Homo sapiens: one gene and its partners. The protein of the gene in region 1 interacts with the protein of each later gene in a pairwise test. Each region holds a gene or a part of one and is shown in the gene's direction. Other genes may lie near its edges.

Region 1 (8,807 bases):
CAGCTGACTTGTGTTGACTGCCAGCTCTCATACCCAAGCCAAGCAGTGGAAGCCATACCCCTGGAAGGATGAAGGTTTCTAAGGGGAAAGGGACAGTCTTGAAAGGGGCTGAAAGATGATATCATCTCAAGAAGCTGAACAAGTTATCTCTTACTTGAAAATGGGTCTGGTCCCTATCTGCGAGACATCCGGTCCTTCAGGATCAGCCAGGGGTGCTATGGGGAGAAGCAATGTGGGGCAGGGAGAAGAACACCTCCCACTCTGCCCTTTGAAGGGTTAAATGATGGAAAGCAGTGTAAGAACCCCTTGTGCTTGTGCATGTGAGTCAGTGTGTGTGTGTAAGCATGTGAGAGTCTGAGTGTGGGGGGGAGCGAGCATGTGCGTGCGTGTGTGTGTGCGCGCGCATGTGCGCGTCAAGGAGCAGCAGGAGGTCAGGATGCCTCCTGCCCCCCCAGAGGGAGCAGCCTTCTTTGGCTCAGGTGCCCCAAGGAAACTCTCCAGCAACCATCGTACTTCATACCCTTCAGCATGACACGTCCTCGTATCTGCCCCTGGAAAAGCCGATGCCAGTCCTGCGGTCACAACTGAGCAGCAAGAGCACTGGGAAGGGAGAATTCAGAGCCTTCTGCTTCTAGTATAAGAGACTTTCCACAAACACCAAGAATACGCATGAACTTTCAAAATGGCTTGTGTATCATGGACCTTGAGGAACATCCAGGCTCACGAGAATTAACAAGGAATGAGATAAACGAGGGCTTATTCTTTATTGTGGTAAAAGGTTATGGGAAGCTTGAAACTACAGTTAGCTCTTGAATATCTGGACAGTAATGTATTCGTTGATCTCACGTATTTCAGTGAACCAGTCTTTGTTGGCAGCTTGACTCCTTCTGTTTGCCTTTTGAAACATAAGCACTTGATCTCCTGGAACTTAGGCTCAACATAGGATCAACCTTGTACCTGCCTGAGGGTTAAAACTCAATTCACAGGTGAGGGACTGACGAAGTAAGCAGACACTTCCAGCTCCTTCCAAGTCAAACGAGGTCAGCTCGCTATTTTGCTTGACGTGAATTCCAAGAACACCAGACACATCGGTAGGTACAAAACCACAAAGCTAAATAGAAGACTGTGGGTTTTTTATTTGAATTAATCACCGTTTTTGAGTCAGTAGACTACAGTTAGTAATTTAGTCCTGCTAGGCAGCCACTGTGGTCCATGGGAATAAAGACCAAAATAGAAAACACTCCTCACTTCATTCACTGACATTTTATTCTTTATCTCTATCCAAAATGTACTCAGGGAAGCTCATGATTAATCACTCTTGTATACAGTTAAAATAGAGGAAAAAGAAGATTTCAGAAAGGAAAAGAGGGTATTGGGAATCAGGGGTAATACAGTTATTAGAAGTGAGTTTTACATGTGACTCTGAGCTTCCAGAAAGACAAAACAAAAAGAGAAACATAATGAATTTTAGAATTCTCATTTTCTAATAAAAAGCAACGTACTCCTTTGTTAAGAAGTACACAGCACAGGCTGGGTGCAGTGGCTCATACCTGTAATCTCAGCACTTTGGGAGGCCAAGGCTGGCAGATCACTTTGAGCTCAGGAGTTCGAGACTAGCCTCAACAACATGGCGAAATCCCATTTCTACACGCACACACACCCCCACACTAGCCGGGCATGGTGGCTCATGCCTGTAGTCCCAGCTACTCGGGGAGCTGAGGCTGAAGAATCCTTGGGCCTGGGAAGTGGAGGTTGCAGTGAGCGCAGATTGTGCCACTGCACTCCAGTCTGGGCGACAGAGTGAGACCATTTAAAAAAAAAAAAAGGCCGGGCGCGATGGTTCACGCCTGTAATCCCCAGCACTTTGGGAGGCTGAGGTTGGGGGATCACTAGGTCAGGAGATCGAGACCATCCTGGCTAACACGGTGAAAACCCGTGTATACTAAAAATACAAAAATTAGCCGGGCGTTGTGGCGGGCACCTGTAGTCCCAGCTACTTGGGAGGCTGAGGCAGGAGAATGGCGTGAACCTGGGAGGCGGAGCTTGCAGTGAACCGAGATCACGCCACTGCCCTCCAGCCTGGATAACAAAGCGAGACTCTGTCTAAAAAAAAAAAAAAAAAAAAAAAAGAAAGAAAGAAATACACAGCATAGAGGTCTAGGATGAATTGATTGCAGGAATGCTTGAATACAAGTCCCTTTCTTGTCCTCTTATGATTGCTGAAGGTGGCACAAATTTCATGCATTTCTTCCTAATTCAGCCACACAGTTCCCTGGCTCTTGATTCCAAAATTCCACAAAATGCTTTGCCAATAGCCAAATTTATCCATCTGCCTGATTCATTACACAGTAAGTGGAGGCTCTGGAAGGGGCTCTGGGTGCCCTCATTTCCTCCCTGGTCTAGGTTCTCAGTTTTCTTAGGTCAATACAGGGTACCCCAAAATAGGGGAAACCCAGAGGGATTATGTTCCCTTTGCCTTCCAGCAGAAACAATGTGAAAGAGGCAGGAAAAGCATATTAAGATCCTTGCTCTAAATATAGACCCCACAACTCCTTACACTTATGTCAGTTACCTAAAGCCATAGATTAAAGCAGATAATGAAATCATGGGGCCACCCTGGCTCTATCCAAGACAATGGAACAGAGATGGAATTTGATGGTAGTGTAAACACAATGTGGCTAGTATCTCCCCTCCCAGGAATCTCACTTCTCTTAGAGTGATATCTTCTAGCCACCCTGAAGTTCAGGCCTGATTCATTCCATGGCACAGATTGAAGACATAATTACCATGACAGGCCAGGGGGAGAAAATGTGATTGAGATATTGGCTAGGTGGATAGCAGCTCCTGGGACACCTGAGTGATTACCTACTTAGTTAAAAAGTATATGACCCATGTCAATTTCTCACATCACTCTGCAGTCATATCTCCAGGCTGTAAAAAAAAAAAAAAAAAAAAAAAAAAAAAAAAAAAAAAAAAATTGGGCCTAAAATTCCCCACCATTACCGGGAAATGAGCAAATAACCCAAAATAGTCAGGACTTTGATTATAGATACCAGATGTTCATATATGCATGCATTGACAGTAGGGTTACTTCTAGGGCTTGGAAATCCTGATTTCTCAAGCCAATCCAGTTTTACACTACAAGGAGGAAGAAGAACTAGACCTGAGAGCAGGGGTCCATAAACTCTCTGACATCGTGCACAATATTTTTTATATGGACATGGAAGATTTCATTCAGGAGTGGCCCATAGTTTTCCCCTGAATCTCAAAGGGATCAAGCACCCCAAAAGAAGTTAAGAGCCACAGTCCTAGAGCATTGCAGCTGAGAAAGGCCTTTGTGGGAAGTAGTTCAACCTCCCATTCTACAAATGAGGAAACTGAGGCCCAGAGAGGTATAACAGGTATCTCAAGATTACATAGTTCATTAGTAGCAGAGCTGAGCCTAGGACCCGTCTCTGTATCTCTCAGTGCTGTCAAGAAAGGTTTTTGAAGAAAGAAAAGTACTGGCATGCTCTTTAAAGCAATACACCCTAATTCCTTATGGAAAAACATTTTCTAGAACTGTGCTATATAATATAAATATAACACAAGCCACATATGTAATTAAAATACTTCTAATAGTCACATTACAAAATAAAAATAAACAGATGAAGTTAATTTTAATAATATAGTTCAGTAAACCCAATATATCCAAAATATTACCATTTCAACATATAATCAATGTAAAAATTATTAAGATTTTTGCATCATTTTTTCCATACTAAGTATTCTTAATCCAGGGTGTATTTTACACTTACTCCACACCTGATTTGGATAAACCCATTTTAGGTACGGGTGTCTGGTAGCCACCATACTGGGCAGCCCATGTACAGACTGTTTCCAGCCCCAGCAAGTAAATGCTTTACGTCCCTTGTTTAATTCCACAATTCTTTCCAGGAGCCGAGTGGTATCTCCGGTGATAGATGTGATTGACTGGAAGACTTTCCAGTATTACCCCTCAAAGGACCTGCAGCGTGGGGTGTTGGACTGGAAGCTGGATTTCCACTGGGAACCTTTGCCAGAGCATGTGAGGAAGGCCCTCCAGTCCCCCATAAGCCCCATCAGGTGAGTCCCCATTTCACACCTGCTTTGCCATTGCCTCCTCAGGATGGACTCTGCAGCCTGCCTGCCTGGGGTCTAATCCTACCTCCACAGTTTCCTAGTAAATTACTTAATGTATGCCACAGTTTCCTTTTCAGTAAATTGAGAGCAATCATAGTATTTACCTATAAGGGTTACCCTATAAGGGTTGTTGTGAAGATTGAATGAACTAATATGTGAAAAGCACTTAGAGAGTGCCAGGCACCCAGATGTAGGTGCTACCACCATTATATTGTCATATTCATAAAGTTCCGACAGGGTCTTCCAGATAGCATCAGTTAATGCCCCAGTGTGTGGCAACCTGAGATGGAATCTTGGCCCAGCTCTCTCATCAGGTACAGTGTGAATTCCTCAGGTCTCGTCTTAGCAAATAGGAAGAATTCAACCAGGTGAATGCTAAGAACCATAGGTCTCAAATATATCCTATTGTATGGGTCGCTTCTCACATGTTTGGTTTTTGGATGACTCTTCTATTTAAGTAGAAGTACTAGATATCTTATGCATAACAAATCACCTCAAACTTGGTGTAAAACACAGCCATTTTATTAAGCTCATGAATTCTGTGGGATATGAATTCTGAAAGGACACAGTGGGGTTGGTTGTCTGCCCCCATGGTTTCTGGGGTACATAAGGATTTTTAAAGTTTCCCAACACTATAAAGCCAGTGAGAGGTGAATCCAGAATTTAAACCCAGACAGCCAGGCCCTTGAGACGACTGCTTCACTGCTATGCTATATTTTAAATACAAGGCCACAGTTCATTATTCACAATTGCAAAATCCAAAAAGCTCTAAAAACCAAACATTTGTTTAATAATTCATTAGGCAGCAGGCCAGATGCAGTGACTCATGCCTGTAATCCTAGCACTTTGGGAGGCAGAGGCGGGCTGATCACTCGAGGCCAGGAGTTCGAGACCAACCTGGCCATCATGGCGAAACCCCATCTCTACTAAAATTACAAAAAAAAATTAGCTGGGCATGGTAGCACACTCCTGTAGTCCCAGTTACTTGGGAGGCTGAGGCACAAGAATCACTGGAACCCAGGAGGCAGAGGTTGCAATGAGCTGAGACCACACTACTGCACTCTAGCCTGGGTGACAGAGCAAGATTCTGTCTCAAAAACAAAAAACAAAAACAAAATCATTAGGCAGCAAAAGCTGCCCTGAACTGACATGGGGTGTCTGCATTGGCCTTATTTATCCCACTTACTGCTTACTGTGAAAATATGTGTGTTTCATCAAAGAAATATTAGTATATTTGACTAAAGAGTGCCGGGCAGACCCCACTAGGACTGATGTGTGGTATACGATGTATGTCCCTCTTTAAAGTCCAAAAAATTCTGCATTAAAAAGCACACTGGTCCCACAGGTGTCAGAAAAGGAATGCTGAACTTGTAACATCAAAATCCAGTGAGCGTTTAAAATGTGGCATGCACAGAGCTACATATTTTACATGGCTTACCTTAGTCATCCCGCAAAACCCAATTATGAAACACTATTTTATCCCCAATTAGAGGTGAGGAAGCTGAGCTCAAAGACACATAGCCCACCTAAGATCTTACAAATTGGGAGTGGCAGAGTTGGAAATTATACTGAATAATCATTACAATATCAGTTTTTAGTATTTTGGTATAATGTAGAATTTTTATAACCTAAAGACCAGTAGCTTTGTTAATGCATTACTATTTCTTTGGTAATTAAGAAAAATCTGAACTCTTAGTCATTTACACTTTGAAAAATTCCCAGAGTTTGGCTGCATTCAAATTTGTTCCTCCTAGATGAAGGGACCCTTTTTCAAAAACCCTCTGACTACATCTTTCTCTGTTTAAAATCCCTCTGAGGGATATTATGATCTTAATTCCCTTATTAAAGGTTTCTAGCTTCTTGTGTTTATAAATCATGTATTTTTCCCCTAGGGCAGTGGGGACTTATCTGCTTCCAGGGTCCCTGGTGGATTCATCATAGAATTGGGAAGAGGGTGGATGGTCATTAGGAAAACAGAAGAGGGTGAGAAAAAGAAAGGAGGAAAGAGCCTGACCATGTCGCCGTGTCAGGCCTGGTGCTACCTCTCTTAGAGTACCTGATTTTAAGCAAGGCCTTCTTCCCAAACATCTTTCCAGAGGGACTCAAGCCAGAGGGCAGGGGAGTCTCAGGTGTGGTCCCTAGGCCCTCTCTAGGAGCAGTATCTGAGGACAGAGTATAGAAGGCCCAGGCAAGAATAGCTCTCTTTCCATCAAACACTGGGATTTCTGACATCGTGGCTCTGCTCCAGTCTTGCAATTAAAAAATTGCATTTTACCTGAGCCTAAAGCCTGTTCTCTCAGCCACTGGAGCTCCCACCTGGGAAGCCCCAGCCCCCAGCCTCGCCTGCTGTGCTCTGGGTTCTGAACTGCAGTGTCCTGCCTGTCTTCTGTGTCCAGGAGCCCTGTGGTGCCCGGAGAGGTGGTGGCCATGGACAGACATTACTTCCAAAACACTGGAGCGTATGACTCTCTTATGTCGCTGCGAGGTGGTGAAAACCTCGAACTGTCTTTCAAGGTATGTCCTGGACCAAGGGAGGACAGAGGTGGGATCTCTGGAGTGGTGTGTATGGTCACAGCTCAGAGGCAGGCATTAGAAATGTCACTGGGAAGGAATGAGGCTGTGGGAAAATTATAAAGTCATTCCTGTGTTGTGTGTCAAACCTCCCATTTCTCACAGTTTCCCATCTCTCCTGTGCTGTAGCTTGGTTTCACTCTCAGTGCCTTCAAAACCTGCTTCCAGGAATAGGCATACTCTCAGTTATTTTAACTGCTGTGCGGAGATTCCAGAGGCTCTCATACATTCTCTATTCACAGCGCTCTTAGCATCTTAGTAATTTTTTCACAGCACCCATAGTCCAAAACAAATACCTGAAGTTCTGTGTATTGAGTAGTTTGGTCCAAACAATGTAATACTTGTCATAAAAACTTAGCACCTGTTGGGCACCACACAACTTCTCAAACCTTGGAGTCACCCTCATTTCCTGTCCCACATTGCTTTTCTAGCATGATACTTGCTTTTTCATCACAGTATCCTCCGAAAACCCAACACCAAAAAAAATTCATCATCAAGAGTGCAGAGATCTAATGCTGAAAGTGTGAATTACCTGACGCTTGTATTCTGCATGAAGTCCAACAGATGTCACCGTGTTTCTCTCAAAAATTTAACCCCAGACCCTATGAGTTTGCTGTGGCACCCTGGGGCACCTTGGCACATAATTTGGGAACTCCAGTTTTGGTGTTTCCATTCATATGCTGCTTATCCTAGGACAGTACTTCTACTTTAACCTTTATCCTCAAATGTGGAATGAAAGTCTTCCTGCCGAATGAACTCCAGCCGTTTGGGAGTGGGAGAGCAGAGGGAAATTTCTTGAAATAGTAAAGACTGTGTCTCAGGAAAGCTTGCTTCTGTCTCTACCACAAACAGCTTCTGGTGTCTTTGTAGCACACTTCACAAGCTTTGAGATATTCCCGGACCACTGAGATCATCTTTTTCCCTGAGGAAGTGTCCTTTGGGGAATAGGGGTGCTAATTCACATGCTACATCTCTCTAAGTGCTGGACCTGCATGTGTTTGAAGGGCAGCATATTCAGGTAGTTGCCTGGGGATGGCCCTCTTGTCCCCATTTTGGGACAACTACCTCTATTCTCTCCACCCTGTCACTCCCCTGCCCAGAACCTCCAAATCTGGAAACTCTACGCCACCCTGAGGACCATAATCATCTTCACCATTGAGTGCTCACGATTTCCTGTGCATTTTGCCAGCCCCTCATAGATAGGGCTCCCTATTTCCCGCCGTTCTTAAAGGTGGAATGCTGAGGTGTTTATCTTTTCCCTTCGTGGCAGGCCTGGCTCTGTGGTGGCTCTGTTGAAATCCTTCCCTGCTCTCGGGTAGGACACATCTACCAAAATCAGGATTCCCATTCCCCCCTCGACCAGGAGGCCACCCTGAGGAACAGGGTTCGCATTGCTGAGACCTGGCTGGGGTCATTCAAAGAAACCTTCTACAAGCATAGCCCAGAGGCCTTCTCCTTGAGCAAGGTAAGGAGAGAGCCAAGTGGGGCTTCTGTGTCCAGCACAGGGCCACTAGCAGGAGGTGGGCCAGGGAGGGCTCCTTTCTCTTGCCTGGAGGGGAAAACAGAAGATTCTGGCTTGAGCTTCCCTCATGCTGCCCTATTTTAAGTGGCTCCTCCACCTGGTGAGGCTGTCCTTTGTCTCTCTGGCTTCTCCATGGGACAGCACAGCTGGCCTTGGCCTGAAGCTCCCTAACATCTATGGGATGACATCTATGGGATGGGATCCCTCACCTGGGGCCAGGGGAGGGGTTGGCACAGAGAAGCGATGAGATGGGTCTCCAAGGCCAGGTCTCCTTTCATCCTGAGCAAAGGGCTCAGGGCTATGAAATGATCCAAGACATGAAACAAATATTAAATATAAAAATAGAGTCCAAAGGCCAGGCGCGGTGGCTCATGCCTGTAATCCCAGCACTTTGGGAGGCCGAGGTGGGTGGATCACGAGGTCAGGAGATCGAGACCATCCTGGCTAACATGGTGAAACCCCGTCTCTACTAAAAATACAAAAAATTAGCCAGGTGTGGTGGTGGGCGCCTGTGGTCCCTGCTACTCGGGAGGCTGAGGCAGGAGAATGGCAT
Region 2 (6,205 bases), on another chromosome or scaffold:
ATTTTCTGCTTGTCTAGGACAAAAGTGATTGTTCTCATAGACCTCCAAAGCTAGATGTACTTATTTAAGTTTGCAGCTCCCTCTGTTGAGAAATTTGGGATGAGTTTTCTAGGAGCTGGACCAGCCTGATAATTAAGGAAGACCACCCAGTCATATGTTCAAAGCATTCCTTCCTGCATCCACCAGGGTACCTGAAAAGGTCTCTTCCCACCCCTAGTCCCAACACTCTGCCTCACCAGGTGCCTAGTTAAGGCTTGGACCAGACTTCAACTTCCTCTCCCCTTTTGAATATGTAGTCTTTGTCCATACAACTTCCCATCCCCACCCTTCTCACTAGTCTTGAGTCTGGATTCAATACAGGCTAGACTTGCTTTAAGGTATTCTTTCATAGTGGGGGAAAAGGAGAGGATGCCCAGAGCTATTGGGGAGGCAGCCGGAGTAGGGAACCACAAACCAAAGATCTGTGAGTTATGCTGTCATTGTGTCTAATAAATCCTCCTCCAAAGGGCCCAGCCTGGCCTCGGTAATACAGGTGTTTCTGTTTCTGTCCACTCACCTCTGAGTCAAAGCATTAAATGCAGAGCAATGGCAGAGTAATGTAGCACAACTGCCTCCCTCCCCAGCCCCAGACGAGATGGTGAAAGAGTGGTCACTAGTGAAAGATCCTCAAGAACAAGATACCTTTCACAGGGAACAAAAGAGCATCCTCTTGATGTAGAGATTATAAACCATCACCACCACACCCACTGCCAACCTTGGAGCAGGTGGGCTTCATTTTACTAAGGAACCTGTCTCTCATGCAAACAGGACTGCTGGTGGTGATCTTAATATCTCAGAATCTCAGGCGCACAAAATATTCTTTAGAATATTGCTCAGAAAGTCACTTTCAGGACCAATTCCTTAGCTACGCAGGAAAAACAGCCAGATCAATAGCCTTGTTCTCCACACCCAGCTCTGGGAGACTCACAACCATTTCCAAATAGCATAGCTGTTCTTCAGCAAACAGAAATATGCCACCGCCAAAGACAGTCTACAGATGTCATGTCCAAAGTCAATTTTTAGAACATTTGACCAATGATGGTGTTACTGGAACAAGGATATGGTCATGCAAGGGGTCCACTTCAAAGTAGCACTCACCTGCATGTACAGGTTCTGCTGTGCTTGTTTAAAAGTGTTCCTTTTACTACCAGTTGTCACACATCCCGTAAAACAAAGTTCTGTCAAACTCATGGAACTCTTCATTGAATGGAGACTTAGAAACTGAGGCTCATTTCTCAGCCCTGACGAATGAGCGTTGGAGAATGCTTAATCACTGGGGATCTGTCTAAGTCTCCATAAATCCCCTCTTGATTTTACAGAAGGAGCCATTTCCACATATCCTACCCAGTGATTCTGATGCTTTCTAGCTCTTAGAGTAATGAGTATTTCTTGGGCACCAGGCATGAACCAAGTGTTCTAAAATCTACATGTGACTCAATTCCTATCCCAAGAGTTACCTTTAAAGTTCTGGAAGCACCTGCTGTTCCAGAGGCAGCATGCTAGTAGAGAAAAGGCATGCAAACCTGGATTAAGATTCTGTCTCCACTACTTACTGTGACCTTATAGAAGTCGCCTCTCCCAGCTCCAGTCACCTCATCTATGAAATGGAGATAAAAGTATCAACCTTTGCAAGATGGTTGTGAAAACCATTAGACGCCAAAGAATTAGGAAGAGAGGTGTTTTTGAAATCCAACTATGTGCTGGTCACTGGTTAGGTGCTTTACTAGGAAGATTATATTTTATTTGGATTGCCTGGCCCAGTGTCTGGCATATAGTGTATGGTCAAAGTTATTAGCTTTTTTCCTTCTGAAAAGCAGCTTGACTGGTAAGCCTAGGCCCTCTTCATGCAAAAATGTGATCCATTCTTGCTGACCTTACTTCCTCCTAGTTTGTGATTCCCATGGAGCCATCTAGGGTATTTTTCAAAGGAAACATCCCATAAAAATCAACCATGTCCAGACCTGTGAACTAGCCCTCCTAACCAAACCAGCCTCAAACCTCCAGCGGCCTCCTTGTCATTCTTGCTCACAGCTTTCCTGTCCCCTGTCCCACCTGCCCTCTAAGGGACACCCAGTGAATCATGCCCTTGTATCTCCTAGGGCCCCTTCCATCCCAGATACCACCCACAGCTCCAGGTGGAGAGCAGTGCCCACTATATGCCAACGGTAAGGACTTCCAGCAGGATGGTGGTGTGCCCATGTGGGCCAAAAAGAGCTTCTTAAGGGAAGTAAGAAGGGAGCTCTCCAGAGCCCTGTATCTCAGGAATTGGAGTGATCTGGGGAAGGAAAACAAACAGCTTCTAGAAAGGGCATGAAGAGGGAGTGCTGTGGAGCTGGTGGTGGGAGAAGGGGGTGGGAAGGGAGCCAGGGCTGCAGGAGACGGGGCAGGGAAGGTTTGGACCAAGGGTTGGCAAACTTGTGGCCCATGGGCCAAACCCAGCACACTGCCTGTTTTTGTAGATAAAGTTTTACTGTAACACACACATGCTCATTGGTTTATTTTGTTTGAGAGCTTTCATATTACAGAGTTAACATTTGTGACAGAGATTATACAGCTCACAAAGCCAAAAATATGTACACCTTTTTTACAGAAAAATTTTGTCAACCTCTGGTTTAAACAGTGTCAGGGCTAGGGAAGCTGCAAAAAAAAAATGTTAAGGGGGCCTGACTCCCCTTGCCATGATGGCTATCCCCACATTAGTGACCAACCCTCATTGCCACTTATCACCATAACAGAGCCCCTGATGGGCTTCTCTCCATGTCTTCAGGACACTTATGACATGAGGTGGGAGAGTCAGGAGGATCCTATTTAAGCCTCATTCCTTCTTCCAGTGCATCACCAGAAAGGGAAAGATGAAGGTGTTGTCTACTCTGTGGTGCATAGAACCTCAAAGAGGAGTGAAGGTGAGTGATCTCAGGCCAAACTTGGTACCTTTGCAAACAGAAGTTTTGGACCTACAATGAGAGTATCACTACCACTGTCATTACCACTTTTATCATTACTGTGACCACCATCACTATCACCAAGACCATCATATTTATCTCCATTATTGTCACCACCATCTCCTCCTTCACTACCACCTTCACCTTCACACCATCATCAATGCTACCATGACCACCACCACCTATCTCCTCCACTACCACGCTCACCACAAACACCACTATGACCACTATATTCACCATTCTCAACATCATCTCCTCCACACTGTTACCATGATAAGTGCAGGGAGTTTTTTGCCCTTTCCTGAACAATGTGAAGGACAAAGAAAAGAGAGAAAAAATGATGTAGTCTTCCTTTGCTCCAGAGTCTAAGTCTAAACAGGACAGTCTCCACTATAAGATGGAGTCAAGAAGACCATGGGCTCCAGCCACAGCTATCAGAGTCAGTTGGCAGAGATGGGGGAAAGGCTGGTCCTTTAACAGAGAAATAGGCCATGTGGCATCATGAGAAGAATGTGGGTTTCTGAGTCTCAGAACTGAGTTTGAAACCTGACTCTATGTACTTATTCACTGTTGACTTGGCAAGTCAAGTGTCCTCTCTGGGCCTAATCTGCAAAGGGGAGACAATGCCTGCTTTGCAGGACTACTGTAAGTTGTTAGGAATAGAACCTAGGTTCTAGAAACAAACCTTAAAAATTGTCTACATGTAATAGATGTTCAAAACAGGGAGTTTTGTTGTTGCTGTCGTTTTAATGTCTTATCTGCCCTGCTAATTCAGTTCCTAATCTGCAAAAATGGGTTTGAATTGGCGTAGGGTTTCTGCTCCTTCCCATAAATGGCAGTAGGGGAAATGAACAGTCAAGGAGTCTCTTAATTGAAGGGCAGTTCCCCCAGGACCTGAGGTCACACAGCTGGTGTGTAGTCCAGCTGGAACTAGAACCCAGGTCTCCCAATTCCAGGTTGAGGAGGAGTGAAAGGAATCTCCCCTGGCTGGCTTCCCTGGCTTTCTAGAGGAAGATAGCCAGCCAGGAGGGGTGGGAAGGAGATGTACTTGCTGTGGAGCACAGAGACCTGACCTGAGCTCATTCTTTCCCCACAGCCAGGTCTGCTGAGTTCACCGTGGGGAGAAAGGTGAGCTGGGATCCCTGCTCCTTTCTCACCCTCTCTCTTACATTTGCTTCCTCATCCTGAGCCAACTCTTCCACAGGACAGTTCTATCATCTGTGCGGAGGTGAGATGCCTGCAGCCCAGTGAGGTTTCATCCACGGAGGTGAATATGAGAAGCAGGACTCTCCAAGAACCCCTTAGCGACTGTGAGGAGGTTCTCTGCTAGTGATGGTGTTCTCCTATCAACACACGCCCACCCCCAGTCTCCAGTGCTCCTCAGGAAGACAGTGGGGTCCTCAACTCTTTCTGTGGGTCCTTCAGTTCCCAAGCCCAGCATCACAGAGCCCCCTGAGCCCTTGTCCTGGTCAGGAGCACCTGAACCCTGGGTTCTTTTCTTAGCAGAAGACCAACCAATGGAATGGGAAGGGAGATGCTCCCACCAACACACACACTTAGGTTCAATCAGTGACACTGGACACATAAGCCACAGATGTCTTCTTTCCATACAAGCATGTTAGTTCGCCCCAATATACATATATATATGAAATAGTCATGTGCCGCATAACAACATTTCAGTCAGTGATAGACTGCATACACAACAGTGGTCCCATAAGACTGTAATGGAGTTTAAAAATTCCTACTGCCTAGTGATATCATAGTTGCCTTAACATCATAACACAACACATTTCTCACGCGTTTGTGGTGATGCTGGTACAAACAAGCTACAGCGCCGCTAGTCATATACAAATATAGCACATACAATTATGTACAGTACACTATACTTGATAATGATAATAAACAACTATGTTACTGGTTTATGTATTTACTATAACTTTTTCTTTTTGAGACGGAGTTTTGCTCTGTCGCCCAGTCTGGAGTGCAATGGCACAATCTCGGCTCACTGTAACCTCTGCCTCCCGAGTTCAAGCGATTCTCTTGCTTCAGTGTCCTGAGTAGCTGGGACTACAGGCATGCACCACCACGCCCGGCTAATTTTTGTATTTGTTAGTAGAGATGGGGTTTCACCATGTTGGCCAGACTGGTCTCGAACTCCTGACCTCAAGTGATCCACCCGCCTCGGTCTCCCAAAGTGCTGGGATTACAGGTGTGAGCCACCGCACCCAGCCCTGTATTTACTGTAACTTTTTATTGTTATTTTGGAATATATTCCTTCTACTTATTTTTTTTAAGTTAACTATAAAACAGCCTCAAGCAGGTCCTTCAGGAAGTATCCAGAAGGAGCCCTTGTTATGATAGGAGATGACAGCTCCATGTGTGTTATTGCCTCTGAAGACTTTCCAGCGGGACAAGATGAGGTGGTGGAAGACAGTGATATTGATGATCCTGACCCTGTGTAGACCTAGGCTAATGTGTGTGTTTATTTATGTCTTAGTTTTTAACAAAAAAGTTTAAAAAGTAAAAAAAAAATAATAATTTTAAAAATAGAAAAAAGCTTATATAAAAATATTTTGTATAGTTATACAATGTGTTTGTTTCAAGCTAAGGTTTATTACAGAAGTCAAAAAGTTTTAAAAACCTAAAAAGTTTATAAAGTAAAAATGTTACACTGAGCTAAGTTTCATTTATCACTGAAGAATTTTTTTTTTTTTTTTTTTTTTTTTGAGACAGAGTCTCACTCTGTCATCCAGGCTGGAGTGCAATGGTACAATCTCAGGTCACTGCAATCTTTGCCTCCTGGGTTCAAGCGATTCTCCTGCCTCAGCCTCCCGAGTAGCTGGGATTACAGGCATGCACCACCACACCTGACTAATTTTTGTATATTTAGTAGAGATGGGGTTTCGCCATGTTGGCCAGGCTGGTCTCGAACCCCAGACCTCAACTGATCCGCCCTCCTCAGCCTCCCAAAAGTACTAGGATTACAGCCATGAGCCACTGTGCCTGACCTGAAGAAAATACTTTCATGAATTTAGTGTAGTCTAAGCAGTGTTGATAAAGCCTGCAGTAGTGTACAATAATGTCCTAGGCCTTCACATTCACTCACCACTCACTCACTGACTCACCCAGAGCAACCCCAGCCCTGCAAGCTCCATTCATAGTAAATGTCCTATACAGGTATATTTTTTTCATCTTTATATTGTTTTTTACTGCATTTTACCTTT
Region 3 (7,000 bases), about 47 Mb from region 1:
AAGCAATGGAGAGCAGCTTTAAACTTGACAGTGTCTTTAAGCTGCAATTTCCCCATGCTGTAGAAATAAACATGCATGTAAAGATATATGTATCTTAGTTTTGGGGGTTGCTATAACAAAACACCATAAACTGGATAGCTTATACACAACAGAAATTTATTTCTCATAGTTCTGAATACTGGAAAGTCTAAGATCAAGGTGCCATCAGATTCGTTGTTTAGTGAGGGCCTACTTTCTGGTTCACAGATGGAGCCTTCTTGCTGTGTCTTCTCATAGCAGAAGGGAAGAACTCTGATCTCGTCTGTCCCTTATAAGAACACTAATCCCATTCACAAGGGCTCCACATTTATGAGCTAATCACCTCCCAAAGGCCCCACCCCCTAAGACCATCACTTTGGGAACTATATTTCAACATGTGAACTTGGGGGGAGGCATAAACATTCAGATAATAGCAATATTCTCAAGAATATTTATTGCAACATCATCTGTAGTGAAAAGAACTGGAAATAACTAGTAAGTCCATTATAAGAAAATAATTAAAGTATGATTCATCATGTTATGAAATATTATATTGCCATCAAAAAGAATGAATTAGCCAGGGATGGTGGCTCATGCCTATAATCTCAGCACTTTGGGAGGCTGAGATGGGAGGATTGCTTGAGCCCAGGAGTTCAAGACCAGCCTAGCCAACATAGGGAAGCTGTGCAATTCTGGAACATATTAATTAAAATATGGCTTAACATATAGTGAATTTCTAATTCTAATATTCAGTGCAGCAGAAGACATGTCTTTTGACAGGAATACCAGCTAAGTCAGTAGATATTTGATTCTTCAGTGTTTGATTTTTTTCATTAGTTGAAGTGAGTTTTAGTTTTGTTAAAATTATAACCAAACTATTTTCACATCATCTTGTAAGTTAAGTGATATCAAACATAAAAGACATGTTCTCATGTTTCTTTTTCTGACTAAATGTCGATGCATATCATTTTTCTATAAGCAATCAGTTGCTTTTAAAATCAGAAGGCTATATTATTCTAATGAACATACTGGATCTAAATGAATATGAAGTTCCATATCAACAAGATATGCTATGTGTTATTTGAGAGAAACTGAAAACAAATTTAGTAAAACTGTTAGTATCAAAAAGAATAGGAATACATTTTTATTGTCCGTACTATGATCAAATAAAAATAATGTGAGATTGTAAAAAAGGAAAAGAAATTTAAAAAATTAGGCATTGTGGTGCATGCCTATAGCCCCAGCTACTTCTGAAACTGAGGTGGGAGGATCGCTTGAGCCCACGAGGTCAAGGCTACAGTGAGCTGTGGTCACTTCACTGCACTTCATCCTGGACGACAAAGTGAGACACTGTCTCAGAAAAAAAAAAAAAAAAAAGAATGAATTCAATTAATATGCATTGACCTGCAGGTAAATATATCATTGTATTTGATAAAATTGTTAAGTGAGAAAACATAAGTTTCATTCTTTGTATTTGATAAAATTGCTAAATGGAAAAACCAGTATTTATCCTTTGAATAAACATGTAGATAATTTATTGAATCATATTTCAAAATAATATACAGAGTCCTGTATTTGCACAAATAAAAAATATAGTTTTGTATGTGAGTGAGTGTGCGTGTGTGCAATTTGTATGAACACAGAGGGAAGTGTAGATATAAAGCACTGAACTGTTAAAATTGATTTTTTCAGAAGGGTGTAATTTGAGATGCAGTAGGTAGAGAACGGGAGAGGTTGATGGTAAACTGTGGTATGCAGGAAGAGTTGTGGGCCTATCACCTGTCTACAGTTGTGCACACACACAAGAAATTCTTTAAAATAGCTCATATTTTACATTATTTTCTATGGATTACCCACATGAACTGGTATTACCTTTAATGTCATCTTCTACTTTTGGATTTTATAGCCTGGGGAAAAAATCCACTTTATTTACGTGTTCTTTCCTTAGGAAGGGTTCACGGATACAGTAGATTTAAAGTCTTAATAACATATAAAAGTCCAGCCTTGAGGGGAAAGCTTTAGCCAATTTCAAGACTTGCAGGCAAAACTCCCACATCCTTAATCTCTACTTAAATGAGGTCAGGGTACTTTTCACTATCTTTTAGGTCAAAACGGAAAAGTCGGGACATAGCACTGACTCTGGTGGTCTTTTACATTTATTCCCTGATGATAAAATAGGTCCAGCAAATCTTTTAAACCATCATTTGGAAATGGCAAAATGTATATATTAAACTTACCCTATTTTCAGACCACTCTGGAAAACTAAGTTGGCATAGTCCTGTCTTCCACAGATAATTCTTTTTTTTTTTTTTTTTTTGAGACGGAGTCTCACTCTGTCACCCACGATGGAGGGCAGTGATAAAATAGGTCCAGCAAATCTCTTAAACTATCATTTGGAAATGGCAAAATGTACATATTAAACTTACCCCATTTTCAGACTACTCTGGAAAACTAAGTTGGTATAGTCCTTCCACAGATAATTACCTTTTTTTTTTTTTTTTTTTTTTTTTGAGACGGAGTCTCGCTAGGCTGCCCAGGCTGGAGCGCAATGGCGCCAACTCAGCTCACTGCAAGCTCTGCCTTCCGGGTTCTCCTGCCTCAGCCTCCCGAGTAGCTGGGACTACAGGCGCCTGCCACCACGCCTGGCTAATTTTTTGTATTTTTAGTAGAGACAGGGTTTCACCGTGTTAGCCAGGATGGTCTCGATCTCCTGACCTCGTGATCTGCCGGCCTCGGCCTCCCAAAGTGCTGGGATTACAGGCGTGAGCTACCATGCCCGACCCACAGGTAATTCTTATTTTGCTACTTTAGTATTTTGCCAGTTGACCTTTGGTCTCTTTTTTTCCCTTTTCTTCTAAAAAATGATGTTAGTAATTCTTTCTTTACTATATGCAATGCACTGAATTTGTACCTGTAGATTTATGTGAAATGAAAAGTGGAGGACTCCACACATCCATGTTGTTCAGAACTACACTGGTGCAGACTTAAGGTCATCAAAAGAACTTAAACTCTCCAAAACAATATTTGTGTGGCTTGCATAGTTCTCCAACACAATGCTGCAGCCCTAGATTCTGTGCCTATGGAATAAACTGCTGACTCAATTTGCCTAATTCTTCTAATCCTTATTTTTGACATTCATCCCTAATTTTGCAATACCTTCTGCTATAACCCTGGGTTTCACATCACCATTTTCCCTTTCCAGCCTACCTCCCTGCCTAACCAAGGCGGCCAGTGAATCCAAAGATGCAGCATGTCGATATGTGAGGTATAGGTCTACTTGATTTAAATGGAGACACTAGCATTTATATAATCTTCATTCCTGAATTTAAATTCTAAGCCACGTTTTTCAAGCAAATATCATACTGCTTTCTTAATATTAATAACATTTATAATTTATGCTATTGATAACAACAAAGTGAAATGTGTCGTCATAACATACAATAAATACAATTTTATAGTAGCCATCATTTTAAACTCCTAATGAGAGAAGTAATAACAGCTACCTTTGTCATGCAGGCATCATATGGGGGACTATATTACTGTGTTTTTCTTACATCATTGTGTTGAATCTGTGTAACTTTAACATTCCCGTTTCTCCAGGAGGCTCAAAGATGTTAACCAACTCATCAGGGACAAAATTGAGGGAAATGCCAAAGCCAAGATTTGAGCAGCCTCACTCCCAACTTCATTCTCTTAAATGCTACACTCCTGCTTTTTCCAATGTGGCAAGCACTTGCCATATCTTATCCCTGATCCTCAAAGAAGCTTTAAAAAGCAGATGTTATCCTATTTTACAGTGTTTATCTCAGTCATCAACTTACATATTTGAGGTCTTTTCTGAAAATGCCAAGGAACATTTGTATTTAGAGATGAATTCAACAGACATCAACTGTCTTTTATATTTGGCTTCTATTTTCTGTTAGTTATTAATTAATCAAGGTAGAGTTGATTCCAATTAAAAACCAGTACTTTTCATTTTAAATATGTAGAAAAAGACTTCGATTACAAAGGCAATAATTTAATCTCATTTTTTATCTTTTCCTCTTTTGTTAAAAAAAGTGTGCATAAGTCAGAGAACTCATTTTCTTCCTGTGTATAAACAAGACGGGGAATTCTTACAGAAAATTTATTTAAATCGTGAGCAGCAATCTACGATTGACAGTTTGATGTAATTTAAAGCTATATTAATGTGGGTTTAATTACAACCTTCTAGCCTCTCAATTGGTGACAACAATCATGTGCAATTGGAGTATGAATCAATAAGTGCACAACAAACAAGCAGCTCCTCAGTGTCCAGATGGATTCATCACTTAATGCTTTCCTGAGTGTATTAAGACAACTGGTATTTGGCCTCACAAGTACAGAAAAAAAGAGAAAAGGGTCAGGAATGCTTCTTATGGATTTGAATTCAGATTTTATTTTTTACTAGCTTTGTTACCTTGGGCAAGTTAAATTCACTAGGCTTCATTTTTCTCATCTATAAGATAGGGCTAATAATAGTTCCTACTTCAAAGTGATGCTATCATGATTTAATGATTTATCCAAGTAAGGTACCTTGCTTAGTACCTACACTGTGATAAGTGCTCAATAAAAGATTATGAAGGTGATGATGATAACGATGCCAGCGGTTATGACGGTGATGAAAAGGGAGAAAGTAGAAATTCATCAAAGGATAATTTAGGAAATTACAGATAACTTTTTGCAAGTTAAAGTCTTGGCAAAACTCTGAGGTAGAAATTTGTATCCAGACTTGCTCATACCTCTTTTTAGCCCCTCTATCTCTATATTCCACTGTGGAGGGCCCTCAAACTGGCAAGTCTATTTTTACCATAGTATGAGTGACTCTTCAGGCGCTTGCTCCTTGGAATATTCACATTTCAAAGAAAATTCCAGCAAGGCCAGTATTGAACCTAAACGAGAACGTCTAATGGAAGAATTGCAAGCACTTGGCCTTCAGGGGTTTGTCGTAGAGGTGTGAAGAGATACTTTTCCTGGTCTTTCTCAAATAACAATCCATAGACAATTTCGTACACTTGAAAGAGACACAGTGGCCCCAACTGAATTCTCCAGGATGTGCTGAGGGTCCTTATAGGGTCAGATACAGGCACTTACTAACCACATTGTAATGCCCAGGTGCTCCAGGCCCTTGGGTGTTCCCCCATAGAAACTGGGGAAAACCCTGGAGTTATGCTGAAGTAGAAACACCATCCTTAGTTCTTTGTTCTGCAGACGACCCACATCTCTCACTGACTGAGGTATGGGGACAGAAGAAAAACAGTCATGTGCTAGTAGAAGAAAAGTAGAAAATCTCTAAGGAGTATGTGCACAGAACCACGGTCTTCCTTTGAGTCTTCATCTTCTGTGGGGATGTATTTGACTTTTGTTGTATTTGTTATTATTCCTGTTCAATGTACTAGCTTAGGCTCCTTTAAAGACCTCAGTTTCCTAACCTGAAAACTGGGGGCAATATCTCCTGCCTATAGTGTTGAAAATTTTAAGTGAGATCAAGCATGAAAAAGTGTTTAGCAAACTGTTAACTATCCTTCTAAAGTAAATGATAATTGTGACCATGATGATGGTGATGATAAAGAAATACCTTTTTCCAACCTAAATGACTCTGGGCAGCGTAATATAGTTACTGGACAGAGCACAGGGTGAGGTGTGAAGTGTAAGAACTTGATCTCTGTTCCCTAAGGAACTAAGTCCTTCCAACCACTTATCACCCTCTGCCTTCCATGCCAGTCTCTTTGGTCTCTTTGAAGCCTACAAGAAAGGATGATGCTGCCAGTCGAATGTAATGAATTATCCAAACTTTACTGGGGAATGTTCCTTAGGAGAGGGGAATGTGGTCCATCCTCACCCTTTTAACTCTCATACCAAGAGACAATTTCTTGCTCTGTACACGTTTCACATTTCTTGATGTTTTAGGGGCCTGGTGACGGTTTCTTGCTGTTCTCATGAACTTTTGTACATGCCACTTCCACTGCCCAGAATGCTCCCTCTCCCTTTTGCTCACCTTTTTTTAGTTGATGAATTCTTCTTCTCCCTTCAGTGTCAATGTAGATACCACTGTCTAGGGAGGTCTTACTAGATAAGGTCAGCCTTCTGACGGCTCCCAGACCACACTTTTTAATGACTTTTCATTCTAGCTACTCAATCAGAGTAAATGCAGTGTGAGAGCAGGGATCTTGTTGGTCCTGCTCATCAGCGCATTTTATGTTTCTAACACAGTGCTTAACACACAGTAAGGCCAACATCAGGGACATCGGCAATCTCCACCAAAACACCCAGGCAGTAGGTGCTTAGAAAGTATTGGTTAAGAAAATGAGAGAAGAAGGAGGGAAGAAAGGGAATAAAGAATATGTAAATGAATTATTGGTAACACATTGGATGAGATGTAAATTCCCCTTAATGGTCTTCATTGTGAAGTGGAATTGTGAAGCTTTCCCTGGAAACAATTGTTTAGCTTGGTTATGGAGGAGAGTAAGTCACATAGGCACCGCTGTCAAGGAAACAGGGCTATTATAGGGATACCCACTGCATGATAATGGTGGAGAACTTTTACAGAAATAAAAGTTCAAGGACTGAAACAGGCTCAGGTCTCATATCTTGGGTTCACGTCAATGAGCAGCAAGAATGCCTTAGCAAGAGTGCCACTATTATTATGTCTTTGTCACTGTCCTGCCTGCCCTCTCTCTGTGTTCCCTTTCTGTTTCCCATTTATTCTTGTCATTATTCTTATCTAATGTCCTAACAGAAAGAATATGATTGGTTCAACTAACAAAAAAATTATTTTAGTTTGGACACAACTATCAACCCCAGGCAATATCATAAGTCAATAGCCAGTCTACAAATTGGTTGCCATAGATCAAATGCCCACTGCTATCCTGTCACTTGTGGCCTGAATAAAAAGGGTCATGATATTCGAAACATTCCCCTTTTGTCTCTTCTTTCAGCTGGAGCAGCGATCATGACGATCCTT
Region 4 (9,203 bases), on another chromosome or scaffold:
AGGAATGGCTTGAGTAAAAACAGCAAGACACAAAATTATACATATGATACAATTTCAGCTCTGTTCTTTCTTATACATTAAAATGTTTTGGTACATAGAAAATTTTTACACGTAGGAAAAAAGAAATCTATTTAAAGTTTGTCAACTACTACAGTGAAATATTTACTTGGATAGTCAGAAATCCAAAAAGTTTTTTAAAAAGAAGAGAAAAAGTAATAAAAGAGAAGTGAAAAGCCAAGTGACCACATACGAAAAAGTACATCAAAAGTTAGCAGTTTTCAGCCTGAGCAACATGGCAAAACCCCATCTCTACAAAAAAAAAATACAAAAATTAGCCAAGTGTAGTGGCTTATGCCTATGGTCCCAGCTACTCGTGAGGGTGAGGTGGGAGGATCACTTGAGCCAGGAGGCAGAAGTTGTAGTGAGCCATATTCACGCCACTGCACTCCAGCCTAGGCGACAGTGAGACCCTGTCTCAAAAAAATAAATAAATAAATAAATAAATAACAGTTTTAAATCCTGTTTAGAATAAGGCAAGTTAGGAGGGTCTGAATGAATGGAAATTGGTGAGTACTAAAAAGCTGAAATACGTTATTGGAATTCAGTGAATTTCTTGACAAGACGGTGGATTTGAACCACTATAGGAAGGGGAGGTATGTTCTTTACCATCCTTTATGAATGTGACTGTGTATAAGGAAAGAAAAATCAATCTGTGTTGGTAAACTGGCTCATTGCAATAATAGTACTAGTGATTGCTAATATTTACATACTATGTACCAGGCATTGTGCTAAGTGACCGATGTGGTTGGGCTGTGTACCCAACCAAATCTCATCTTGAATTCTCATGTGTTGTGGTGGGAGGGACCTGGTGGGAGGTAATTGAATAATGGAGGTAGGTCTTTCCCGTGCTGTTCTCATGATAGCGAATAAGTCTCATGAAATCTGGCAGTATTATAAGGTGGAGTTTCCCTACACAAGCTCCTGTCTGCCTGCTGCCATCCACATAAGATGTGGCTTACTCTTCCTTGCCTTCAGCCATGATTGTGAGGCCTCCCCAGCTATGTGGAACTGTAAGTCCAATAAACCTCTTTCTTTTGTAAATTGCCCAGTCTTGGGTATGTATTTGTCAGCAGTGTGAAAACAAATACAGTGACACACATGCATTATCTTCAGAAGCTCCAGAATCCCCATATGGGGCAGGTTTTAGAATGTAATTTGGTTGGACAGCAGGGCTAGGGGACTTGATGTGGCATGGGAGACCCCTGTCTTTTCTTTTTTTTTTTTTGAGATGGAGTCTCACTCTGTCGCCCATGCTAGAGTGCAGTGGTGCGATCTCTGCTCACTGCAAGCTCTGCCTCCCAGGTTCACACCATTCTCCTGCCTCAGCCTCCCGAGTAGCTGGGACTACAGGCGACCACCACCACGCCCGGCTAATTTTTTGTATTTTTAGTAGAGACGGGGTTTCACCATGTTATCCAGGCTGGTCTCGATCTCCTGACCTCATGATCTGCCCACCTTGGCCTCCCAAAGTGCTGGGATTACAGGCGTGAGCCACTGCGCCTGGCCTCTTTTCTTAAATTATAGGTTTATTTGGGATTACTTAAGACAGCTGATGGCCATTATGCGTGTGTAGTAAAAGTACTCTAATGCCCCAACAAGTGACAAGTCACTTCTTGGTTCCACCACTGCTGATTTCATTGAATCCTCACAATAATCCTGTAAGGCAGAATTGGTTATTACCTCCATTTTCTATGAGAAATCCCAGACTTAGAGAAGTTAATAATTTGGTCAAAGGTCACATAGGTAGGAAATGTCAGAGCCTCATTTGAAAATAAGTTTGACTCCTGAACCCATGTTCTTTGCTACAGTATTCTACTCCCATTTGTACAAGGACTAGCCTTGGCCAAAAATTGGCAAATGGATTTTACCTACCCACAGAAAAGGGCTCAAATCAAACTCGACACAGACACAGACACAGACACACACACACACACACACACACACACACACACTTCTACTGAATTAAAAAAGAAATAGCCAAGGGGAAACTACTGATTAAATATAATAAAATATATTATGTTGAAAACAACATTATTTAACAAACAAGACCCTTTTGCTAACTTGATAATTCATCATTTGGTTTTTAAGGATGAATTGCACTAACTGCAAATGAGTCAGATTCCTCAGAGGGGCCTTAAAATACATATAATAAATCAGGTATTAAAAAGCCAAACACATAAAGGGATTTATAATGAACAGGATAAGCACAACCCACTCTGAAAAGTGCGGCCTGAGATTTAAGTTTAGACTATTGCTCAGAGGTGAGGCTTGTTTTTCCACAAAGAGAATGCGAGGGATTCTCCCTACCTCAGTGCCTCCCAGCTTAGTGGGGCAGTCTTACCTGTCCTTGAAGATCTTGGCATAATTGAATCTATTAAAAATTTTAAGGACTATTAAAGCTATGCTATTAAAAACTGCATATTAATATTGGAAAATATAAATTTGAAAAGAATTTACAAAATACTATTAGGACGTAAAACCCTTTTTTGGTAAAATGAACAAATAAAGGTATGCTTATATGCAGACATATGTAGTCAGCAAAACCACTGAAAAGAAATACACTAAAATATGTTAACAGCAAATTTTTTCCTTTCTTCCTCCCTCCTTCTCTCTCTCCTTCCTTCCTTCCTTCCCTTCTTTCTTTCTGTTGCCATGGTTGTAGTACAGTGGCGTCTCAGCTCACTGCAGCCTTGACCTCCCTGGCTCAAGCAATCCTCCCACCTCAGCCACCTAAGTAGCTGAGACTACAGGCGCATGCACCACACCTGGCTAATTTTTTGTATTTTTAGTACAGATAGGGGTTTCACCATGTTGCCCAGGCTGGTCTTGAACTCCTGGGCTCAAGCAATTTGCCCACGTCAGCCTCCCAAAGTTGGGATTACAGGTGTGAGCCACCATGCCCGGCCAACAGCAATTTTTTCTGATGGGTGATTTTTATCTTATCACTCTCTGGGTTTTTTATATGTATTTGCCCTGTACTCTGGATTAAATTTACTAATTTGCAATTAGAATACAATGACTTAAAAAATGAAAGACATCGGTCAGGTGTGGTGGCTCACGCCTGTAATCCCAGCACTTTGGGAGGCCAAGGTGGGTGGATCCTGAGGTCAGGAGTTCAAGACCAGCCTGGCCAACATGGGAAAACCCCATCTCTACTAAAAAGACAAAAATTAGCTGGGTGTGTAATCCCAGCTACTCAGGAGGCTGAGTCAGGAGAATTGCTTGAACCTGGGAGGCGGAGGTTGCAGTGAGCCGAGATGGCACCACTGCACTTCAGCCTAGGCGACAGAGTGAGACTCTGTCTCAAAAAAAAGAAAGACATCGTTGACATACCTACATTTTTTTTTTTTTTTGAGATGGAGCCTTGCTCTGTCACCCAGGCTGGAGTGCAGTGGCACAATCTCAGCTCACTGCAACCTCTACCTCCTGGGTTCACACCATTCTCCTGCCTCAGCCTCCCGAGTAGCTGGGACTACAGGCACTCACCACCACGCCTGGCTAATTTTTTGTATTTTTAGTAGAGACAGGGTTTCACCATGTTCCAGGATGGTCTCGATCTCCTGACCTCGTGATCTGCCCGCCTCGGCCTCCCAAAGTGCTGGGATTACAGGCGTGAGCCACCGCGCCCGGCCTCATACCTACTTTTTAATGTCAGTACAGCAGGTTATGGTATGGAATGCATTTTGGAACAAGATATTAACAAAAATTCAAAGGAAAAAATACATGGCCATGGAATTCCAGTGCTGAGAGACATTTGGGAATATTGGGGGAGTTTTCCAAAAGAGAAATCCAGGTGACTGTATTTGTTAAATGAGTAACAAAAGGAAAAACAATGTAAAGAAACAGAAAGGAAAGGAAGAGAGAAATACAAAGATCTGAGAAGAGAAGGTGCCAGGGGCCGCTGAGAGATTGCCAAATGTTAATTTCATTATTTGGCTTCTTATTTTATTCTGGGTAAAGGTAGACCTATTAGTTTCCTGTTGCTGCTATAACAAATTACCACCAACTTAGTGGCCTCGAACAATGCAAATTTATTCTTTCAAAGTTCTGGAGGACAGAAGTCCAAAAATGTGTCCTATCAGCTGAAATCAAAGTGTTGTGTTCCTTCTGGAGGCTCTAAGGAGAATCTGTTCCTTCTCTTTTCTAGTTCTAGAGGCCATCTGCGTTCCTTGGCTCATGTCCTTCTTTCAGCAATGGCATCATCACTCTGACCTTTGCTTCCATTGTCACATCTCCTTGACTCTGACCCTTTTGCCTCCCTCTAATAAGGCCCCTCTGATTACACTGGGTCCACCAGATAATCCAGGATAGCTCTCTGTCTCAAGATCCTTAATTTAATCATATCTGCCAAGGGTTTTGTTTTGTTTTATTTTGTTTTTGCCATTTAAGGTAATATATCCACAGGTTCTGGCAATTAGGTTGTGGACATCTTTGGGGCGACAATTCTCAACCTACCATACAACCGGTACATAAGGTTCTACTACCTACTAAATGCATCATAAACAGAACTTCTGATCCTTCAACAACTCTGTGAAATATATGACAGGATTTGCTTTTAAAGTTGAAGAAATCAGGCCTTGGTGCAATTTGGGATTCTGCCCATGGTCAAATAGTGGGGAGGCAAACCCAGGTCCCTGAACCCAGCTCAAGCCTGCCTGCCTCATGGCCATGCCTCCATTCACCTCTCCCCTTCATGTCTACTTCCTCTTTCCTGTCTGGGCCTGTTCCCTAGCTCCCTGGACAAGCTTAAGCTGCTGTTTTCCAGCTTGTCATGTGCTCCTTATGACAGTGTAGCCACAGCTTGATCTTGGGGATTGCTGATTGAGCAAGCTGAGTGGCTGCCCCTCAGAATCTTCTGTAGGCCTTTCTCTTGCCTTCTTTTATTCAGTAAGTGTTTTGAGCTTATTGTGCTGGGTGCTAGAGTAGCAGGGAGGACAGACCTAAGTTGAAGATTACGGGACAATCTAAGTGACACCTGCTATCTCAGACAGAGACTTCAGCATCATAGGGAGCCAGAGCAGGGAGTTCCAAGCCGTGGGAACTGTGACTCTTTCTTACTGACCCTTAAGCAAAATTCTAAGCTCCAGGGAAGCAGAGGCAGCAGCTTGAGCTCCCTGATTGACCAGATATGATTAATCTTTGTTTCTCTGTGCTTTGAACATGACTATGCTCCATAAATATTTAAAAATTGGGAATAGGGTGAAGATAGATACACCAAAAGGAGCAAGCAGTGTCTGAAACCAGCAAAGACTTAAAAGTTACCGAAGAAGGTGTTCATGCTTTCATTTTATCTTTTTTTTTTAACCTAGCAACTGATGACACTGCATATCTTCCCCTGTTCTTATTGGGAGAAGGCCTTGTGTGTCACCAAGAGGTTCTCAGAAGGGACCTGTCAGTTTTTGGTTAAAAGAACCCGGAAAGAGAAGGACTATGGGGGAACTGATGGCGTTCCTGTTACCTCTCATCATTGTGTTAATGGTGAAGCACAGCGATTCCCGTGAGTATCCCACGTCCTCTTCTCTCCTAACTCCAAAGTCGAGGCAGCCTAGAAGGCACAGCTTTTCTTCCTAAAACTTGTGGTGAAAAATATAGAAGCCAGGGGCAGAAACGTGTATGTATTACACTCAGACTCCAGGAGCAATGGATTGCCTGAACAGTTTCCCAGTTCATATTTGTAGGATTTTGATGTCACCACCTTCTGAGGGAGGGGGAGCCGTTCTAGAAAGACTCTGGAACTTCCTCACTTTCCCTCTGAGCATGGCCTCCTTTCTTTTCTGCTCATATTTTTTCTTTTACTTTTGTTTCTCCTCTTTTCTAACTTCCAGAGTCTCATGAGGATGTAGTCAGAGTTTCAGGGGCATTAACAGTGGAGTAGATCCATTGTTCAGGTTTATTTATGTTTTTCCTCAACACAAGCCCTACCTGTAATAAAAGATCCAAGAAAGATAAAACCATGGCTCTGGGTTTGTTTACTGACTGTGAGAAGTATTAATCAAGTAGAAGGGAGAGTTTTTCATTATTCGGGGAGCTCAAGTCACTGGGGAAGCAAATGCCTTCTGTTGCCTCAAATAGGGGAAAGGGCCCATGGGCTAGAACCACCAGGCTTCTCTGCCCTAATCACTTGCTCCCTGGGCTGAGGACTGGTACTGGTGGGCAGTGTCCAGAACTTAGACTTGGCCACCACCATAGGTGTGACTGATGAACATGAGAGGAAGGAGTTCTTTCAAATCACCCATGCACATAGAGAGTGGAATGACTGACCATGGAGATTTGGAAGGGCGAGGGGGGTGGATGATTAGAAATTACTTAATGGGTACAATGTGTGTTACTTGGGTGATGGATACCTTAAAGCCCCAACTTGACCACTACACAATCTATGCTATAACAAAATTGCATGTGTACATCATAAATTTATACAAATAAAAAAATTTTAAATCATATGGCTGGGAGTGGTGGCTCACACCTGTAATCCTAGCACGTTGAGAGGCCGAGGCAGACGGATCGCTTGAGGTCAGGAGTTTGAAACCAGCTTGGCCATCATAGTGAAACCCCATCTCACTAAAAATACAAAAAATTAGCTCGGCACACCCATCTCTACTAAAAATACAAAAAATTAGCTGTGCACAGTGCGCACCTGTGATCCCAGCTACTCGGGAGACTGAGGCAGGAGAATCACTTGAACCCAGGAGGCGGAGGTTGCAGTGAGCCGAGATCATGCCACTGCACTCTAGCCTGGGTGACAGAGTGAGACTCCATCTCAAAAAAAAAAAATCCATATATTAATTGTTCAAATATTGATTGATGGCCTACTATGTGCCAGGCACTTTGGGGGATATGGCAGCGAACAAGACAAACATAGTCTCTGCTTCCATGAAAATTTAATCCAGAAAGTGTCATCATTTATGGGAAAGATTGGGGGTGAGGGTAAGAGGCAGAAGATGAAAGAGGAAAGGAGGAGAGAGGCAAAGGGTGATATTTTTGGAAATAATAAAGCTTATATATTACCTGCATGTGATTCTCAAAGAACTCTCCAATAATATGGAATAATATTCCTTAAACATATTATCTCCTATGACAATCTCACTGACTATTTGTAGTAGGTGAAGAAAATATCCCCATTTAAAGATGAGGCCTAGATTTTTCTCTAGGCCTAGAGAGTGACCACGCTCACATAAGGAGCAACCTGAAGGAGACTGCAGATCTTCTGGCCCTCGGTCCAGGGCTGTTCCACAATGTCATTGCTCCTTTGGGTGTGAAGACTTGTCACTTTGATAATTGGGGGGACAGGAAATAAAACAAGTAAGTTATAAAGGCAAGGGAAGGTCACTTGGTGCTGGCTGTTCTCCTTCTGACTCCTTAGAGTGCATCCTTCTCTGTTCTGTTCTGTGTCCTTGAGGCTGACTGCTAGACTGCATCACCTAGACTCTCTTGCAAGCTGATTTCTGCTTGGGTTCATACAATGGGAGACACTGAAAGGAGAGATGTCAGAGAGCAGGGAGGAAAGAGAGGCTGGGATACATCTTTCTTGCTCCTTCCCCACTTTCTGTGATGTCTTTGGCAGTAGCTATGTTCTTCTGTAATGCTGTCTTCCCTGAATAACCCCTTCTTCATGGTTCTAGCTCCCATTGGGCTTCAGTAACGGTATTTGCTATTCTTATCTCTTAAGCCCTAGGGGTGATAATGGCTTCCCATAGTTGTTAGCCTGCAGATGCCCATCATCCTTGTTTGTTCCGTTAACCTTGACCATATCTCTGCAAGGAGTCCCTTCATTAAGGTCTCCTCACATGACCCATCTGGCTTGAAGGCTGTTTCCTGCTAGGACCCTAACTGAACATTCCTGGGCTTTGAGGGATATTGGCTGGAAAAGGATATGAGATTATGAAAGAAGACTCAGTCTACTTGATATTTATGCCTAGTGCTAGCCCTGAGTGGGAGCTATATACCAGTAATAGATGGGGAAACACGGGGAAGAGATACTGCAGGGTTGTGGGTCATTACTCCAGGAAATGTCAACATAACTCCAATATCACTTTCAGTGTGTTGCTTTCATCAACTCCACAGCCTGCAGTTGACTCCTCCTTCCTTTGTGCTCCCATGGCTCCTGTTCACAGTTCTGTAATTTTCCATTTACAAAAATCTTCTCTTTGAGGCTCTCCTTAAAGACAGAAAGAGATATCTTCATTTTTTTCTTATTTCTCTGGTATACCTAGTGCCCAACAGGCACTTAGTAAATGTTTGCTGAGTGAATTTATGTTCGGAGGTAATGTCCCTAAGAAATCACAGTTATTTGACTGGGAGCCATAGAGAGCTCGGGCAGTAATAACGACTGCAAATTCAAAACTGTGGCTTACTGTAGTTGCAGGATTTGTATTAAAAAGGTGTTTCATGCTTTTACAACTCATCTTGTTCTTCATTTCAGCCTGTGTGAAACTGTGAATTGGCGATATGGGTGGGTGTAATCAGACTGGGGGCTGGCATGAGATTTCTCATGCATTGCCATATGTGATTTGTATGTTTCATCTCGACATAACCAAGGTCAGTCTCTTGATATTACTCATAATTTTATGGCTGTATAAATCTGCTATATCAATCTACTTCATGAATGGTGGAGTCCTTCACAGGCGAGGTCTGATGATGGATAAGCTCCCTAAGCTGCCAACTGGGTTACTGTTAAAAAACAGACTTGCATATTATCTGCTTAGAAGTGACCTTGAGTTCAAAGAGTTAACATGAGAAAATATGGGCTTTTTCTTTAGACTTTATTAGATAGACTTCAGTCTGTTTCCATGGAGCTGTTGCCAAGGTATATGCCATAGAAATTTCTCCAAGACAATGTTTCACTCCCCTAAGGCCCTCTTCTTAATTGGCATTGAATCTATCTAAACTTGAGAAATTCAACTAATTTGTAGATTTTTCTTTTGACTAGTTGAAATATCTGTCTATTCTCACTTGACCCCAATCCTCTTACCCCACAGTATTGCTAAGAGCTGGAGGAAAGGAGCCTAAGTTAAAGATCAAACACATGACTCTTTGAACACTTATTTTAGGGAACTCAAATTGAGAAAGATGACAAAGGATGTTTTTTCTGATGTATGAATTTATATTTATCGGGGAAAATCTTTCAAGAGTATACATATTAAGTC

What was found.
Region 2: the proteins of GALNT15 (region 1) and FCRL6 interact in binary tests that used the Homo sapiens proteins (3 or more experiments, as listed by UniProt).
Region 3: the proteins of GALNT15 (region 1) and SYNPR interact in binary tests that used the Homo sapiens proteins (3 or more experiments, as listed by UniProt).
Region 4: the proteins of GALNT15 (region 1) and MR1 interact in binary tests that used the Homo sapiens proteins (3 or more experiments, as listed by UniProt).

Annotation. Positions count from the first base shown.
Region 1 is NC_000003.12:16,204,567-16,213,373, forward strand, and holds part of GALNT15 (polypeptide N-acetylgalactosaminyltransferase 15), read left to right. Parts: intron 1-3,936; coding exon 3,937-4,104; intron 4,105-6,557; coding exon 6,558-6,675; intron 6,676-8,002; coding exon 8,003-8,197; intron 8,198-8,807. UniProt on the Homo sapiens protein: Catalyzes the initial reaction in O-linked oligosaccharide biosynthesis, the transfer of an N-acetyl-D-galactosamine residue to a serine or threonine residue on the protein receptor.
Region 2 is NC_000001.11:159,811,351-159,817,555, forward strand, and holds the end of FCRL6 (Fc receptor-like protein 6 isoform 1 precursor), read left to right. Parts: intron 1-2,138; coding exon 2,139-2,204; intron 2,205-2,870; coding exon 2,871-2,942; intron 2,943-4,077; coding exon 4,078-4,109; intron 4,110-4,185; coding exon 4,186-4,311; 3' UTR 4,312-4,907; downstream 4,908-6,205. UniProt on the Homo sapiens protein: Acts as a MHC class II receptor. When stimulated on its own, does not play a role in cytokine production or the release of cytotoxic granules by NK cells and cytotoxic CD8(+) T cells. Does not act as an Fc receptor.
Region 3 is NC_000003.12:63,281,308-63,288,307, forward strand, and holds part of SYNPR (synaptoporin), read left to right. Parts: intron 1-7,000. UniProt on the Homo sapiens protein: Intrinsic membrane protein of small synaptic vesicles. Probable vesicular channel protein.
Region 4 is NC_000001.11:181,028,518-181,037,720, forward strand, and holds the start of MR1 (major histocompatibility complex class I-related protein 1 isoform 1 precursor), read left to right. Parts: upstream 1-5,465; 5' UTR 5,466-5,490; coding exon 5,491-5,557; intron 5,558-8,479; exon of another isoform or gene 8,480-8,595; intron 8,596-9,203. UniProt on the Homo sapiens protein: Antigen-presenting molecule specialized in displaying microbial pyrimidine-based metabolites to alpha-beta T cell receptors (TCR) on innate-type mucosal-associated invariant T (MAIT) cells.